3 separate regions of the Homo sapiens genome follow, and regions 1 and 2 are each linked to region 3. Evidence: fine-mapped expression QTL. A gene starts in region 3. Each other region holds a variant in brackets. All regions are shown on one strand. Distances are between the middles of the regions. Region 1 overlaps ARID3A (AT-rich interaction domain 3A). Region 2 overlaps ARID3A (AT-rich interaction domain 3A). Region 3 holds the start of ARID3A (AT-rich interaction domain 3A).

Region 1 (2,732 bases), 49 kb before region 3:
GAGGGAGAGAGGAGGCGAGTCCCAGGAGCTGGGTTCCCCCGGGTTTACACCGTCTGCCCTGTCAGGAGCTTATCCTGGTGTCTGCTGTGGGCAGGGAGAACTGTTTTTACCCCACCTTAAATAATGAAGGCAGAATTTCCCAACTCCTGCAGTGTGGATGCTGGGCGCCAGATTGTTCTCTGCGGTGGGGCCGTCCTGGGCACTCAGGGTGCCGAGCAGCATCCCAGGACTCCACCCACTCCACACCAGGAGCGCCCCCCCAGGCGTGACAACCACAAATGCCCCCAGACATGGACCAGGGTCCCCCTGGGGGCACAGACCCTGGCTGAGGACCCCTGCTTTTTTTTTTTTTTTTTTTTTTGATGGAGTTTCCCTCTTGTCGCCGAGGCTGGAGTGCAGTGGCGCAATCTCGGCTCACTGCAACCTCCGCCTCCTGGGTTCAAGTAATTCTCCTGCCTCAGCCTCCGGAGTAGCTGGGATTACAGGCACGCGCCACCACGCCCGGATAATTTTGTATTTTTAGTAGAGATGGGGTTTCACCATGTTGGTCAGGCTGGTCTCAAACTCCCGAACTCAGGTGATTCCGCCCTCCTAGACCTCCCAAAGTGCTGGGATAACAGGCGTGAGCCACCGCACCTGGCCAGACCCCCGCTTTTGTAGCTGTCTCTGCCGCCCGGAACCAGACCTAGAGCGATGCAGGGCAGAGGGGGATAGAGCACCCCCTTCCACTCACCCCTGGCTGTGCTGGGCAGGGGTGTAGGGTGGAGCTGGAGGTTGGGGAGACGCCAAAAGAAAAAAAACACCACAGGACACTTTTCTGTTAAAAGTCAGAAGTGTTTTGTCTCGTTTTAATATCTCATCAGCTTTACAGGGTTACAATCGTCTTAAATATTTCTGAAGTTTAAATACAATCTGCATAATAATGTTACTATAAAATGTAAACTTTCAGTGTTCTTTTAAATTTCAAAATCACACTTTTTTTTTTTTTTGGTCTTTTTGTCTTTTTTTTTTTTTTTCCTTTTAATACCTGAATGTTCTGCGAAAACTGAAATTGTTACAGGCCACCCTGCCGCGGCCAGGGCGAGACAGGCTGGGCCCAGCCAGAGGTAGAGAGTAGTTTTATGTTTTTTAAAAATTTTTTTAAGTTTTTTTTTTTTTCCTCCTATTACCTGAGTTTCAGGCGTGGTTCCCACGCCGTCTGACAAACTCCAGAGAAACTGAAATTTCACACGTCATGAATGAAAGGCTGAGTTTACATTTGCCAAGGAAAAAAATGCAAAAGCACAATTGGGGAAAAAAGGGACAAGGTGGGTAAAACATGATAAGAGAAAGGAAATTCAACTGTAC[A/G]GATGCGTGACCCTTAACAACGACCCCAGCTGCCCCCCGTGCCCCGTGCCCACCCTCCCGCCTTTCTGGACAGCCACTTACGGGTCCCACGGAAGGTTCCAGAAGCCGCCTTTCTCCCAACATCTCAGAGCAGGGGGAGCCCCCGTTGGCCTTGACTGTGGGGCACCCACTCAGTACGCAGCCAGGCCCCACGGTCCCAAGTGAACTAGAACCCATCCAGGGTCCTCGTGGCTGAGGGGACTGCCCGACCCCCTCCCAGTCTGCATAAGGGGGGGTGCTGAGCTGCACCCCAGAAAGCCACACCGAATTTAAACCCCCACCGACAGGCGGTGGCAGGAGATGGGCACGGCTGGGGTTGAACGGGGCCACCTGAGGCAGGGAGGAGCCTCTGCAGACACGGCTTCCTGCCGAGTATCCAGGACCGGGCCCCATAGACCCTCTGCAACCGCCTCCCATTTCCACGGCCAGCATGGCCACTGCCTTCAGCGACTTCCTTCTCCTGGGCCGGGACCCAGCCTCGCGCCCACCCCCCACCCACCCCGCCTGTCCCTACAATCATCGGAGTTAACAGCAGGCTCAAGTCCTCTGAGTTAGAATCCAGGTCCACCCACCGCCGGGAGGCCGGATCGCCCACAGACACGACACGCAGGATTCCCGACACACACACGCAGCCCGAGGGAGACGACCCAGCCCTCGACCCTGCACGGCCCCTCCCCAGGCTCCGAGGTGGGCAGGTGCACGGGGGCCCCAGGGGTCCAGGGCCGCCAGATGCAGCAGGCAGCCAGGCCCCAGTGGCTGCTGCAGACCCTGGTGCACGGGAGGCGGGGGAGAGGCACCCCAGGGGCTCAGATTTTGGCATCAAAAGTCAGACCTGAGGTAGACAGAGATAGGCAGCAGGCGCTTCCCCCGGCGCGGGGCCCAGGCGTGGGACGGGGGTCCCGGGAGAGGAGCCCTGGAGGCCGGGGGACAGACACGGACAGAGTCCAGGTGGTTCTGCGAGTGGGGCCCGATTGTGTCTGGAGGCAAACAGACACCCCCTTCCCGGGGTGATTGTGCTGCTACGGTGCTGGCCCCAGGAAGGGACAAGGAAAACCTAGACGCCCACCACCCCCTCCTGGAAAGGGGGTGTGTGTCCACGGCCCTGAGATCCGAGAAGGAAGTGGGGGTCCCCTCCCCAAAGACACAGGAAAGTGACAGTCCCCTCCCACAGCCCGACGGGAAAGTGAACCTAGACTCAGGGGCTCAGAAGCCCCCCAGCCCCCTCCCCAGGGGTCTCCAAGGCAATGGGGAGGTGGTTGGGAGTGGGGGGAGCTGGGGAGTCCCCTTCCTCACCAAGCCCCCATGCCGGTGGCCTAACAGGGCTCCCAGGGCCCAATTAGAGACCC
Region 2 (2,734 bases), 45 kb before region 3:
CTCCGCGGCTCTAGCCCCAGGGATCCGATGTGCTGGGCTCACAGCTGCCCAACGCACCCCCAGAAATGGACAAAGGGACCCAAATTGGTCATGGGAAAAATAAAAAGGTGAGTTTTTTTTTTTTTTTTTTTTTTTTTTTTTTGCTTTTTTTTCTTGCTTTTTCAAGACCAGTTTCCCTGAAGGAACACAAATATATAGCTATATAGATATATAGATATCCTTTTCCTAAGGTTTGATCCCCCCAAGAATAAAATAGAATATTTACACAACAAAACCCCCGAAACCTCTTAAAAACCCTACAGAGAAAAAAAAATTTCCCAAAGCAACAAGAAAAAAACAAAAATTCAGTGATCTTGGTTCAGGGGTTTCACTGGACACGAGAAGCTGGGAGTGGTGAGTGTGTGGTGAATAGAAAATAAAAGAGAACTAAAGCAGACAAAAATGAAAACACACAGTGCAGGGATGTATGAGGTAAACAGGATCGGCCCACACTGCTGTGGGGCCAAACCAGACACCAGAGCCTTCGGTCCATCAGGGCTGCCTGAACGCCCTGGGAAACGTCTGCCTCTTTCTGTTTTTCTGATGGATTTCTTTGCTGTTCTCACAATTCATCTCTCTGAATGTCCAAAACCTGAGAAATTCAAGTGTTCCTTGGTTTTCCCCTGTTTTATTAAATTCTCTTTATATATATACGTGTATATATATATATATATATATATATCTTTTTTCTTTTCTTTTTGGCGTCAGCTGTGGCTCCTTTCTGGATATCTTCCCTCCCCACCCGTATCTTCCGCCATCCTGGCCCCTGTGTGGCCCACCTGGACCCCCTGCCCAGGCCGGCGGGCTCCAGGGTGGGTGGCGGGTGGGGAGTGATGCGGTTAAGGCAACGAGTTATTTGAGGTAGATGTGGAGGGTGTGGACAGCCCCGCTGGCCCAGCCTGGCCGCCGCTGGTTCCGGTGTTTCCTCCCCGGCCGCCTGCGTTGCTGCTGCTGC[C/T]GCCGCCGCCGCCGCCTCCTTTGTTGGGAGCAGAGGTTGGCGTGGGGGCCGGCGGCTGAGCAAACAGAACTCCTAAGGCAAGAACAGAAGACATATGCCATGCAGAGTTTAAGAAGATGCGAGGCGGGCCACAAGGGAGACCCAATGGGGTGCTCCGGGGAATAAACTTCTCTCTCACTCTGTCCCCCAGGCTAGAGTGCAGTGGTGGCATCAGAGCTCACTGCAGCCTCAACCTCATGGGCTCAAGTGATCCTCCCAGCTCAGCCTCCCGAGTAGCTGAGACCACAGGGGCGTGCCACCATGTCTGGCTAATTTTTTATTTTTTTGTTTTTTTTTGAGATGGTGTCTCGCTCTGTCGCGCAGGCTGGAGTGCAGTGGTGCGATATTGGCTCACTGCAACCTCCACCTCCTGGGTTCAAGCAGTTTTCCTGTCTCACCCTCCTGAGTAGCTGGGACTAACTACAGGCGCCTGCCACTACACCAGCCAATTTTTTATTTTTAGTACAGACGGAGTTTCACCATGTTGGCCAGGCTGGTCTCCAACTCCTGACCTCAGGTGATCCACCCACCTTGGCCTCCCAGAGTGCTGGGATGACAGGCATGAGCCACTGTGGCTGGCAATATTTTAGCAATTTTTTATTTTTTGTAGAGATGGGCTCTCAATATGTTGCCCAGGCTGGTCTCAAGTTCCTGGCCTAAAACAATCCTCCTGCCTCTGACTCCCAAAGTGCTGGGATTACAGACGTGAGCCCAGCTTAAACTTCCCCACTGTGTCTGCTCACTCCTTCATCACACACATGTGCATATATATGGATGCACGTGAGCACACACGTGTGTTTAATCCACACATGCACATCAGCGTGCACACAGCTCTTGCAGGGAGAACCCTGATGCCCATGGTTCGTTGATGTGGGGTTGCGAGACCCCTAGCACACAGTTGGCCTTCTCCCCTGTAAGATTCAATATGAATGTACACGTTTTACATCTGATTTCCGGAGGGCACGGACCCCTCAAAAATCCATTTGTGGACCTGTGAGGACACCACTGACCTTCAGCTCAGCCTCTGACCACAGCCGGGCGGGGGCCTGCAACAAGGCTGCTCTGTGTCGACAGCGCCACCTGGTGGCCACTATGAACCATCGGCCTGACTCCACTTTAAGAAAAACTATTCATTTACCGCCGGGTGTGGTGGCTAATGCCTGTAATCCCAGCACTTTGGGAGGCCAAGACCAGCAGATCACGAAGTCAGGAGTTCGAGACCAGCCTGACCAACATGGTGAAACCCCGTATCATCTAAAAATACAAAAATTAGCCGGGCCTGGTGGCATGCACCTGTAATCCCAGCTACTCAGGAGGCGGAGGTTGCAGGAGCTGAGATCATGCCATTGCACTCCAGCCTGGGCAACAGAGTGAGACTCTGTCTCAAAAAAAAAAAAAAAAAAAAAAAAAAAGAAAAACTATTCATTTACTTATGTTCTTTTGTAGAGATGGGGTCTTCTGTGTTGCCCAGGCTGGCCTCAAGCAAACCTCTCTCCTTAGCCTCCCAAAGTGTTGGGATTACAGGCGTGGGCCACTGCCCCTGGCACTGACTCCACTTTTTTAATTAAATTTTTTAATTCTTTTTTTTTTCTTCCTCTGAGACGAAGTCTTGCTCCATTGCACAGGCTGGAGTGCGGTGGCGCGATCTCGGCTCACTGCAACCTTCGCCTCCCGGGTTCAAGCAATTCTCCTGCCTCAGCC
Region 3 (2,751 bases):
GCTGAGGGGGCATTTCTGACTCAGGGTCTGGTCGGGTCTGTCGCCCCTCCCCCACCTGGGACAACTTCAAGACAAGGCCCCCCCCACGGAAGAGCTCCAAGCAAAGCCCCCCCTCTTTGGGGGCACAGAAGGAAGAGGCCAAAGGAAGCCACTCCCCCCACCAGCCCGCTCCGAGCCCTGCTGGGTTTAATGACCCTTCCGGGTCGCCGGGTGGGGGAGGGGAGCAGGACAGACCTCCACGTTGGGGCCGGTGGAGGGGGCAGGTGGGGATCCCAGATTCCCCCCTAGGTCAGGGCTGGGTGCCCCCCCATCGCCGCCATAACCCTAAACTAGCTACGCCCACCCCCTTCAGACCCCTCCCCCCAAGAGCCCTTTGTCCTCGACCCCCACCCCCATTTTATGACAGCCCCAAGGGAGAGGCTGGGACGGGGCGCTGGGTGGTCGTTGGACCAGGCAGGGGTGGGGGGCGGAGGGATCCTGGGCCACACCCTCCTCCCCCCAGGCCTCCGGAGAGAGGTCACCCGCTCGGCGCGGGCCTTGCAAAACATGGTTATTTAAAGAGTTGTGCAAGGCCCCGGGCCCGCGGGTGGCGAAAGGGGCCCCTCACTCCACGAAGGGAAGAGGAGGGGGAGGGGCGGGGCAGAAAGCTGGGGAGGGGGCTAAGAAAGTCCTGGGTTGGGGGGGCCTGGAGGAAGTGAGAAAAAAACTCAAGAAGGAGAAGAAATAAGAAGACAGAAACCCTGGTCCGGATTTCAAAGGCTTCTTGGAAAGCGGCCGATTTGCATGGGGGGGGGAACCCCTCCAGCCCGAGCGCCTAAAAACGGAAGATAATTGAACCCGCCGCCCGGGGCCGGCGCCGAGCGTTGGAGTTGACAAACGCGCGCTCCCAGCGCTTCCTGCGCCCGCTTTTGTGTCTGGGGGGCCCTGAAACGGGTCAGGGGGCTCTTCCTGGGTATCCCCGCCGAGGAACCGGGCGCCCGGGCCCAACCCACCCCGGCGCCCGGGGGCCGCGGTGTCTCCCCCGGGGGCCCCTCTCTGCGCTGGGGCGGACACTTTATAAATAAACCAGCCCGGCTGGGGAGGCTCGCCGGGAACTACCCTCCCTCCTCTCTGGGCTCCCGAATAAATCCCTGATTTCGGGGAGAAAGAATAAAAATGAAATAAAATATCGGGGTGCAGCCCCCCGCGCGCGCGCAGAGACCATTTCCTTCCGCTGGGGAGGGGGGGGCGCGCACTCGCGACCCCCGATCGCCCCTGCTCGCCCCTGAGCGATTGATCCAGTGGGGAGTGAAGTCTCCAAGCGGGGTGCAGAGAAAACTCCCCGAACCCCAGCCCGCCAGGGCCGCCTTCCCAGTCCGGGACCCCCACCAACATCTCCGCCCAACTTTGGGGACCCCCTTCTTTGGCTTCCAGGACGCACTGCGCCCACCCCGGCACCGGAACCCGCGCTGGGAACGGCCAGCGCGCTCCCCAGCCTTACCGCGCAGGGCGGCTCGTAGTGGGGCGCGCGCCCCGCGCCTGGGGTCGGCCTGCCCGGGCCCGCCTGGCTTCCAGCCGCCGGTGCGCGCCGCTGGCTCCCGGCCCCCGACCCACGGGGCTGTGCCGCGCGCCGACTCACCGAGCCGCCAGCCGCGTCCGCGTCTACACCCCTCCGCCCGATTGGTAAGAGGCGCCCCGCGCGCGGCCGGCCCCCGCCCCGCCCCTCCCCCACCCCCAGACAAATCACCAGGGGACGAGTCGCTCTCGGATGCAAATACCTGGCCGGTGATTCAGCGCCGCGGCCCGGGCGCGGGAGGGCCTCGCCAGGGCTCCCCACTTTTCCCCGCACGCCCCCTCGCCCCCCTCCCGCGGTCTGACGACGCGCAACCAGCCCGGGGGCGCTGGGGAGCCGGGCAGAGTGGACGGAAATTTTCAGGTCGCGGCCCCTTTAAAGGATAATAAATAATAAACGGGAAGGGGAACAGCGCCGCGGGAGGCCCCGCCCCCGGCCTAGGGACGGTGGGCAAAGTGCGCGACGCGGCCCCAAGCGCAGAGGGTGCCGGGGGCAGGGGCTGGGGCGGGAGCGCCCCGGGGGAAGAAGAGGGGACTGACTGGGGCTCCGCCTGGGCGGGCTGGCCGGAGGCATCGGAGCCAGATCCGGGACCAAGTCTCTTCCCTTCTTACGGAGCACCTACGCTGGGCCTCGTGGACTCGGAGTTTCACCTTCGCCCCTTAGACGGAGAGACCCTGAGAGAGTGACTTCACTCTCCGGAGCCGCCGTTTCCAAGTCTGAGAAATGGGCTTGAAAGACCCGGTGCAGAGCTGGGCGGGCGGCGTCGGAGGGAGGGAACCAGGGTCCCGCCGGCCTCCCTCTGGGGAGGGACGGGCTGCAGACGGGGGCTCGGCGCGGGCGTGGGGAGGTGCGCGCTGGGACCCGGAGCCCCTTTGTGAAACCAGGACGACCCTGCCCGGCCCGGCTGTCACCAGCGTCGGGAGCTCGGCTGCCCACCACCCCCCCGTGAAGGTGGTGATGACTTACACGGTCTGAGCGGTCGCTTGCCCAACCACGTGCCCCGCGCCTCCCTCCAGGGAGGTCCCTGCACGTCTCCAGCCCTCACTCCTCTCTGTAGTTGGCAACCTTCTTGTCGCCACTGCGCAGAGCAGGAAACTGAGGCACCGAGCGGGGTGCAAGGAAGGCGGTCGGGAGGGGGACGCGTGCTCTGCAGGGAGCTGTGTGCGCGGGAAGCGACCCCAGGGGGCTAAGCGCAGAGG

Evidence for each region. PIP is the estimated chance that this variant, and not a neighbour inherited with it, causes the effect.
Region 1: its variant is fine-mapped to the expression of ARID3A in blood mononuclear cells (TOPMed, PIP 0.97).
Region 2: its variant is fine-mapped to the expression of ARID3A in whole blood (TOPMed, PIP above 0.99).

The regions. Positions count from the first base shown.
Region 1 is chr19:974,021-976,752 of GRCh38, reverse strand. ARID3A (AT-rich interaction domain 3A) reads right to left here. Exons shown (of 9, transcript NM_005224.3): 9 at 814-2,732. Among named protein-coding and RNA genes, the nearest start is that of WDR18, 9.0 kb to the left of the region's middle. The variant A/G (reference allele first, on the strand shown) is at 1,348.
Region 2 is chr19:970,210-972,943 of GRCh38, reverse strand. ARID3A (AT-rich interaction domain 3A) reads right to left here. Exons shown (of 9, transcript NM_005224.3): 9 at 1-1,066. The coding sequence ends at 879. Among named protein-coding and RNA genes, the nearest start is that of WDR18, 13 kb to the left of the region's middle. The variant C/T (reference allele first, on the strand shown) is at 995.
Region 3 is chr19:924,927-927,677 of GRCh38, reverse strand. ARID3A (AT-rich interaction domain 3A) reads right to left here and starts at 1,643. Exons shown (of 9, transcript NM_005224.3): 1 at 1,619-1,643. RefSeq lists silencers at 674-866, 854-1,093, 1,514-1,583, 1,674-2,603, 2,694-2,751 and an enhancer at 709-1,469.